Regions from separate parts of the Homo sapiens genome. Here region 2 is linked to region 1. Evidence: fine-mapped expression QTL. A gene starts in region 1. The other region holds a variant in brackets. All regions are shown on one strand. Distances are between the middles of the regions. Region 1 holds the start of PLVAP (plasmalemma vesicle associated protein). Region 2 overlaps ABHD8 (abhydrolase domain containing 8).

Region 1 (4,385 bases):
CATTACGGAGGATGTTCTCCTCCTGCCCAGCTCTGGGGGGCTCTGGGTGGGTCTGGCCAACCCAGAGAAATGGCTGGTTGGGCACCCGTGGCAGCCCCCAGCCCTCCTTCCCCCACTAGCAGCCGCCGACGACGCCGCTGGGAAGGGTCCGGAATCAGGATCAGGAACCACCGGGTAGCTGCAAAGGTCAAAGGTCAGACATGGGTTTCCTGCCCACCCCTGGGAACTTCCTTCTTCTCAACTCTACACTCGCCTCACTGAGCACCACCCTGGAGTACCCCTCCGCTCTGTCAACGACCCCTCCCCACTCTGTTACCCTGGCTAATGGGGGGACGGGTCCCCACGCCCCAGCCTTCACATTGCCCTACAGAGGACAGCAATTGCATGATTGTCACCTGTCCGGAGTCCAGCCTCCTTTCCGGCTCCCTGCTCCTGTTCCTCCAGCCCACCCTGACTCCACAGGGTGGGGGGTACCTGTCCCAGTCTGTCTCCCAAGACTGGGAGTTGCTTGTGGCTGAGGTTGGGACTGACACCTCTTGGGGGGCCCTGGCATCACCCAGCATGGAGCAAACAAAGAAGGGACTCCAGGGAGGGTTTCCCTGGAGCTCCTGATCCTGGGAGATAGGCAGGACACACAGAATCCTTTGCTTCCGGGTCCCCAAATCCCCTCCAGGCCCAACTGGGGGGTGACCCACAGCGACCCCAGAAAACTCCCGTGGTTTTTTTGGTTTGTTTGTTTTTGTTTTTGAGACAGAGTTTCTCTCTTATCTCCCAGGATGGAGTGCAGTGGCCCGATCTCGCTTCACTGCAACCTCCGCCTCCCGGGTTCAAGTGGTTCTCCTGCCTCAGCTTCCCAAGCAGCTGGGATTACAGGTGCTCGCCACCACACACGGCTAATTTTTGTATTTTTAGTGGAGATGGGGTTTCACCATATTGGCCAGGCTGGTCTCGCACTCCTGACCTCAGGTGATCCGCCTGCCTCAGCCTCACAAAGTGCTGAGATTACAGGTGTGAGCCACTATGCCCGGCCGCCCATGGGGTTTTGAGTGTCGGGGGAGGAATCTCAGTCCCACGTATCCACCACTTGTCATTCACCATCTCACGGAGCCCCCAGCAGTGCCTCCAGCAGGAAATGATCCTAATCATAACAACAGCCACAGAGTGACGAGGCACTGGGTATACCCCGTCTCACAAAGGGGAAAAGGGAGGCACAGACATGCGAGGCCTCTTGCCCGAGCTCTCCCGGGACAAAGCCAGCTCTTCCCCGCTCCAAGTTCATTATTCCTTGTGCTGCAGTTTCCTGGAGCATTTACTGAGCATCTAAGTGAACAGGGCACTGGGGGCAATGACAGAGCTTGGGGAGCCAGCGCCACCGCCATCCATGGCTCAGCCCTCCGTGACGCCCTCCTATGCAATTACTAATCACCTACTGCTTCTCCATCCCTAGGCTAGCTAAGAGTTTCACACTTTTTCTGTTTTTTTTTTTTTTTGAAACAGAGTCTTGCTCTATACCCCAGGCTGGAGTGCAATGGCACGATCTCTGCTCACCGCAACCTCCGACTCCTGGGTTCAAGCGATTCTCCTGCCTCAGCCTCCTGGGTAGCTGGAATTACAGGCGAGCACCACCACACCTGGCTAAGTTTTGTATTTTTAGTAGAGACGGGGGGTTTCACCACGGTGACCGGGTTGGTCTCAAACTTCTGACCTCAGGTGATCCGTCCGCCTCAGCCTCCCAAAGTGCTGGGATTATAGGCGTGAGCCACCGTGCCTGGCACATTTCCCACGTTTTGTGGCACTTAATCAGCACCGCCCTGGTGAAGTGGGTGCACGTCTGTAGCCAGCCTGTCTTGAGGTAAGTCAAGTTCGCTGAACTAACAGCGTGAGACCCCGAGGCAACCCCTTCTCCTCCCTGTGCCTCAGTTTCCTCCGCCACACAAGGGAGACAGCAACAGACCTGGCATGATTCAGCGACCTAATCACAGCAGGTACTGAGAACAGCACCCGCCAGCAAGTAAAGGCGAACGCGAGGCTCGAAGAGGCCAGGAATGCCTGACCAGCCAGCCAGCGCCCCACCCAGCATTAATCAGAGGGGTCCAGCCGGTGCCCTGGCTCTGGGCCCCCAGCCCCACCCCCGCCTTCTCACAGCCAGAGTGGGAGTGTTGTGATAACCCGCAGCCCCCGTTTCCTCCGGGCCAGGAAGGAGCCAGGCAGAGGAAGTATTAAGAGGAGTAATATAAGCACTCCCCCCTGCGAGGCGGGGGCCAGAGCAGGCCTGGTGGTGAGCAGGGACGGTGCACCGGACGGCGGGATCGAGCAAATGGGTCTGGCCATGGAGCACGGAGGGTCCTACGCTCGGGCGGGGGGCAGCTCTCGGGGCTGCTGGTATTACCTGCGCTACTTCTTCCTCTTCGTCTCCCTCATCCAATTCCTCATCATCCTGGGGCTCGTGCTCTTCATGGTCTATGGCAACGTGCACGTGAGCACAGAGTCCAACCTGCAGGCCACCGAGCGCCGAGCCGAGGGCCTATACAGTCAGCTCCTAGGGCTCACGGCCTCCCAGTCCAACTTGACCAAGGAGCTCAACTTCACCACCCGCGCCAAGGATGCCATCATGCAGATGTGGCTGAATGCTCGCCGCGACCTGGACCGCATCAATGCCAGCTTCCGCCAGTGCCAGGGTGACCGGGTAAGGCTGTGGGCAGGACACTCGCCCTGGGGACCCTGAGCAAGCCCCCTCACCTCTCTGAGCCTGAGTTTCCTCATCCAAGAGAGGGGGACGATCACAGGACCAATGCTCTCTTTTCTTATGAGACAGAGTCTCGCTCCGTCTCCCAGGCTGGAGTGCAGTGGTGCAATCTCGGCTCACTGCAACCTCTGCCTCCTGGGTTGGAGTGATTCTCCTGCCTCAGCCTCCCGAGTAGCTGGGATTACAGGCATGTGCCATCATAACCGGCTCATTTTTGTATTTTTAGTAGAGATGGGGTTTCACCATGTTGGCCAGGCTGGTCTCAAACTCCTGACCTCAAGTGATACGCCTGCCTTGGCCTCCCAAATTGTTGGGATTACAAGCGTGAGCCACTGCACCCGGCCGATAGATTTTTTTTTTTTCCTTAAGAGACAGGGTCTCCATGTGTATCCTGGGCTGGATGGAGTGCAATTGCTATCACAGCTCACTGCAACCTCAATCTCCTGGACTCAAGTGATCCTCTTGCCTCAGCCTCCTGAGTAGCTGGGACTACAGGCGTGCACCACCACACCCAGCTAATATGTTTATATTTAGCAGAGATGAGGTCTCACTATGTTGCCCAGGCTAGTCTCGAACTCCTGGGCTCAAGCAATCCTCTCACCCCAGCCTCCCAAACTGCTGGGATTACAGGTGTGGGGCACTGCGTCCAGCTAAATTTTTTTTATTTCTTTTCTTTTTTTTGGAGGCAGGGTCTCACTCTGTCACCCAGGCTGGAGCACAGTGATGTGAGCATAGCTCACTGAAGCCTTGACATCCTGGGCTCCAGCAATCCTCCTGCCTCAGCCTTTTGAGTAGCTGGCACTATGGACATGCCACTATGCCCAGGTCATTTTTTATTTTTAGTAGACGTGGGGTCTCGCTATGTTGATCAGGCTGGTCTTGAACTCCTGGGCTCAAACAATCCTCCCTCCTGGACCTCCCAAAGTGCTGAGATTACAGGTGGGCACCACCACACCTGGCAATTTTTTTTTTTTTTTTTGAGACGGAGTCTCGCTCTGTCACCCAGGCTGAAGTGCAGTGGCACAATCTCGCCTCACTGCAACCTCCACCTCCCAGGTTCAAGTGATTCTCCTGCCTCAGCCTCCTGAGTAGCTGGGATTACAGGCGTGTGCAACCATGCCAGCTAATTTTTGTATTTTTAGTAGAGACGGGGTTTCACCATGTTTGCCAGGCTGGTCTCAAACTCCTGACCTCAAGTGAGCCACCCACCTCGGCCTCCCATAGTGCTGGGATTACAGGCATGAGCCACCGTGCCCTGACCTGGTGCCCTGGCTAACTTTTTTTTAGAGACAGAATCTCACTATGCTGCTGAGGCTGGTCTTGAACTCCTAGGCTCACCCTCCTAAAGTGCTGAGATTACAGGCATGAGCCACCATTCCCAGCCAGCAACATTTTTTTTAAACTGTAAGTATATTCCATGCAATATTTGAGATATAATTTTGAAAATAATATTCATTGTCTTTTTGGAATCCAAGTTTAATTCTCCTCCTGTGTGTTAATTGGCAGTCCTGAGCCCATAACTTACTATGCATGAAGCTCCCAGAATGTGCCAGCACTAATCAAAGGGGTCCAGCACACACAAGCTGCAAATAAGTGGCTGAAGACCGGCTACAGTAGCTCACACCTGTAATCCCAGCAC
Region 2 (4,385 bases), 77 kb after region 1:
TGAGGATAGACTAGGGTGACCCAGGAGGGTAACTACCACAAAGGCACTGCTCAGACAAAACATGTCAGTGCACGGTGGCTCACACCTATAATCCCAGCACTTTGGGAGGCCGAAGCAGGAGGAAAATTTGAGGTCAGGAGTTCAAGACCAGCCTGGCCAACATGGTGAAACCCCATCTCTACAAAAAATACAAAAATTAGCTAGACATGGTGGCACCTGCCTATAATCCCAGCTACTCAGGAGGCTGAGGCAAGAGAATCGCTTGAACCCAGGAGGGGGAGGTTGCAGTAAGCCGAAATCCGGCCACTGCCCTCCAGCCTGGATGACAAAGCGAGACTGTCTCAAAAACACACACACACACACACACACACACACACACAAACAAAAAAATCTCAGTGCCGTGGCTCACTTGATCTGGCGCTCCCCAAACTGGAGTCTAAAACAGTTCTCCCAAGGCTCAGGGAGTGCCTGCTGCACGGTGCAGGGTTCTCATTGAGACAGCACCTGAACTGGCTGCTGTCCTCACTCACAGGACACACCATGCTGACCGGGGTGACCGACGGTATCTTCTGTTGCCTGCTGGGCACGCCCCCCAACGCCGTGGGGCCACTGGAGAGCGTCGAGTCCAGCGATGGCTACACCTTTGTAGAGGTCAAGCCCGGCCGCGTGCTGCGGGTGAAGCATGCAGGACCCGCCCCAGCCGCTGCCCCACCTCCACCATCATCCGCATCCTCGGATGCAGCCCAGGGGGACCTCTCCGGCTTGGTCCGCTGTCAGCGCCGGATCACCGTGTACCGCAATGGGCGGTTGCTGGTGGAAAACCTGGGCCGAGCCCCTCGAGCCGACCTCCTACACGGGCAGAATGGCTCTGGGGAGCCGCCGGCCGCCCTGGAGGTGGAGCTGGCAGATCCGGCGGGCAGCGATGGCCGCTTGGCCCCCGGCAGCGCAGGCAGCGGCAGCGGCAGTGGCAGTGGTGGGCGGCGGCGGCGAGCCAGGCGCCCCAAGAGGACCATCCATATTGACTGTGAGAAGCGCATCACTAGCTGCAAAGGCGCCCAGGCCGACGTGGTGCTCTTTTTCATCCATGGTGTCGGCGGTTCCCTGGCCATCTGGAAGGAGCAGCTGGACTTCTTTGTGCGCCTAGGCTATGAGGTGGTGGCTCCTGACCTGGCCGGCCACGGGGCCAGCTCTGCGCCCCAGGTGGCCGCAGCCTACACCTTCTATGCGCTGGCTGAGGACATGCGAGCAATCTTCAAGCGCTATGCCAAGAAGCGAAATGTGCTCATTGGCCATTCCTACGGGTAAGTGAACCCTGGCATGTGGGGTGGGGGTGAGGGATGGGGTCAGCAGGGACTACAGTCACAAAATACTGAGTTTTTGGCTGAGCCCCGTGGCTCACGCCTGTAATCCCAGCACTTTGGGAGGCCGAGGCAGGCGGATCACCTGAGGTTGGGAGTTCGGGAACAGTCTGGCCAAGGTGGTGAAACCCCGTCTCTACCAAAAATACAAAAATTAGCCAGACGTGGTGGCACGCGCCTGTAGTCCCAGCTACTCGGGAGGCTGAGGCAGAGGAATCACTTGAACCGAGGAGGTGGAGGTTGCAGTGAGCCGAGATTGTGTCACTGCACTCCAGCCTGGGCGACAGAGGGAGACTCTGAGATGCCACTGACACCTGTAATCCCAGTGCTTTCGGGGGCCAAGGCGGGAGGATATCTTGAGGCAAGGAGTTTGAGACCAGCCTGGGCAACATAGGGAGAACCCCCTAGCTCTACAAAAAGTACAAACATTAGCTAGGTGAGGAGGTGCACGCATATAGTTCCACCTACTTAAGGGCTGAGGCAGGAGATTGCTTGAGTCTGGGAGGTCGAGGCTGCAGTGAACTGTGATCACACCACTGCACTCCAGCCTGGGCAGCATGGCAAGAACCTGTCGCTCTTTAAAAAAGAAAAAAAAATCCGGGCGCGGTGGCTCACGCCTGTAATCCCAGCACTTTGGGAGGCTGAGGCGGGCGGATCACGAGGTCAGAAGATTGAGACCATCCTGGCTAACACGGTGAAACCCTGTCTCTACTAAAAATACAAAAAATTAGCTGGGTGTGGTGGTGGGCACCTATAGTCCCAGCTACTCGGGAGGCTGAGGCAGGAGAATGGCATGA[G/A]CACGGGAGACGGAGCTTGCAGTGAGCCAAGATCATATTGTGCCACTGCACTCCAGCCTGGGCGACAGAAGGAGACTCCGTCATGAAAAAAAAAAAAGGGGCCACCACGCGCGGTGGTGCACATTTGTAATCCCAGCACTTTGTGGATGGATCATTGGAGATGAGTTTGGACAACATGGCAAAACCTTATCTCCTAAAACAAAACAAAGCAAACAAAAATCCTAATTTTTCTCCTTGAAAAAAATCCCATTTTTCAATTTAATTTTTACATTTTTAAAATTTTTTTTTCTTTTAAATAGAGATGGCATCTCACTATGTTGCCCAAGATGTTCTTTAACTACTGGGCTCAAGTGATCCTTGCACCTCAGCCTCCCAAAGTGCTAGGACTACAGGTGTGAGTCATTGTGCTCAGCCTTAATTTTTTTTTTTTTTTTTTTTTTTGAGATGGAGTCTCACTCTGTCCCCCAGGCTGGAGTGCAGTGGCGTGATCCTGGCTCACTGCAAGCTCCACCTCCCAGGTTCATGCCATTCTCCTGCCTCAGCCTCCCTAGTAGCTGGGACTACAGGCACCCGCTACCATGCCTGGCTAATTTTTTGTCTTTTTAGTACAGACGGGGTTTCACCGTGTTAGCCAGGATGGTCTCGATCTCCTGACCTCGTGATTCGCCCTCCTCGGCCTCCCAAAGCGCTGGGATTACAGGCGTGAGCCAACGCACCAGGCCAATTTTCAAGTTCAAAAAAAAATTATATAGAGAATGGGGGGGGGGTCTCATTATGTTGCCCAGGCTGGTCTTGAACTCCTGGGCTCAAGCCATCCTCCCTCCTTGGCCTCCCGATGTGGTGGGGTAACAGGCATGAGCCGCTATACCAGGCTGAAAACTCCCATTAGCATATGTAATCAGACAGGGATTTCCGTCATCACTGATATTGTTTCACATTGTTCTAAAGCAGTGTTGCTCAGGCCAGGTGCAGTGGCTTACGCCTGTAATCCTAGCACTTTAGGAAGCCAAAGCAGGCAGATCACTTGAGGTCAGGAGTTCAACACCAGTTTGGCCAACATGGTGAAACCCCATCTCTACTAAAAGTACAAAAAATTAACCAGGCATGATGGTGTGTGCCTGTAATCCCAGCTACTCGGGGGTGTGAGGCAGGAGAATCACTTGAACCTGGGAGGCAGAGGTTGCAGTGAGCCAAGATCACACCACTGCACTCCAGCCTGAGCAACAGAGTGAGACTCTGCCCAAAAAAAAAAAAAAAAAAAAAAAAGCAGTGTTGTTCAATCCCAGCACTATCGTGTTTGGCCAGGTTATTTTTTTTCTGTGAGGGGCTATAGGATGTTTAGTAGCATCCCTGGCTTCTGCCCACTGGATGCAACTACACAATCTAGTGTTGATCATGACAGTCAAAAATGTCTTCAGTAGTTGCCAAGCGTGCCCTGGTGGGCAGAATTACCCCCAGCTGAGAACCACTGCCTTAGACTAAGTTAAAAAATCAACTGCCCTGGAGAACACTGTGCATTCAGGAAGCGCTCATCGGAATCCTGTAAATTCTAGGCATTTACAAAGGCATGGGTTACTGTAATTCACTCCTGCTTAAAGGGCAGGTAATACAACCTAAAACTTACCAAGAACCCCTCCATGGAAGGCTTGGTCCCCAGGGCTTGACCACTACCAAGTGGCCTCATTCTCTCCTTTATCCAGGAAGAAAGGCAAGATTGAACAGCCAGGCAAGTTGAGCACCACTGTTTTAGAGATTCTAGCCTATGCAATTAGACAAGAAAAAAAGGCCAGGCGTGGTGGCTCACACCTGTAATCCCAGCAATTTGGGAGGCCGAGGCGGGCGGATCAGGAGGTCAGGAGATCAAGACCATCCTGGCTAACACGGTGAAACCCCGTCTCTACTAAAAAATACAAAAAAAAATTAGCCAGGCATGGTGGCAGGCGCCTGTAGTCCCAGCTACTCAGGAGGCTGAGGCAGGAGAATGGCGTGCACCCAGGAGGTGGAGCTTGCAGTGAGCCGAGATTGTGCCACTGCACTCCAGCCTGGGTGACAGAGTGAGACTCCATCTCAAAAAAAAAAAAAAAGAAAAAAGAAAAATAAATAAGTGGCCAGGTGTGGTGGCTTACACCTATAATCCCAACACTTTGGGAAGCTGAGGTGGGAGGACTGCTATAGCTGAGGAGTTCAAGACCAACCTGGGCAACATAAGCAAGATCTCATCTCTACAAAA

What was found. PIP is the estimated chance that this variant, and not a neighbour inherited with it, causes the effect.
Region 2: its variant is the best candidate, but not a certain one, in a credible set for the expression of PLVAP in whole blood (INTERVAL, PIP 0.63).

The regions. Positions count from the first base shown.
Region 1 is chr19:17,375,221-17,379,605 of GRCh38, reverse strand. PLVAP (plasmalemma vesicle associated protein) reads left to right here and starts at 2,264. Exons shown (of 6, transcript NM_031310.3): 1 at 2,264-2,686. The coding sequence starts at 2,318. It overlaps LOC105372298 (a long non-coding RNA gene), which reads left to right. Exons shown (of 3, transcript XR_936362.3): 2 at 120-193; 3 at 776-816. RefSeq lists an enhancer at 1-446.
Region 2 is chr19:17,297,772-17,302,156 of GRCh38, reverse strand. ABHD8 (abhydrolase domain containing 8) reads left to right here. Exons shown (of 5, transcript NM_024527.5): 2 at 533-1,301. The coding sequence starts at 541. It also overlaps a transcript of MRPL34 not described here. Among named protein-coding and RNA genes, the nearest start is that of ABHD8, 3.5 kb to the left of the region's middle. RefSeq lists enhancers at 195-695, 696-1,196. The variant G/A (reference allele first, on the strand shown) is at 2,156.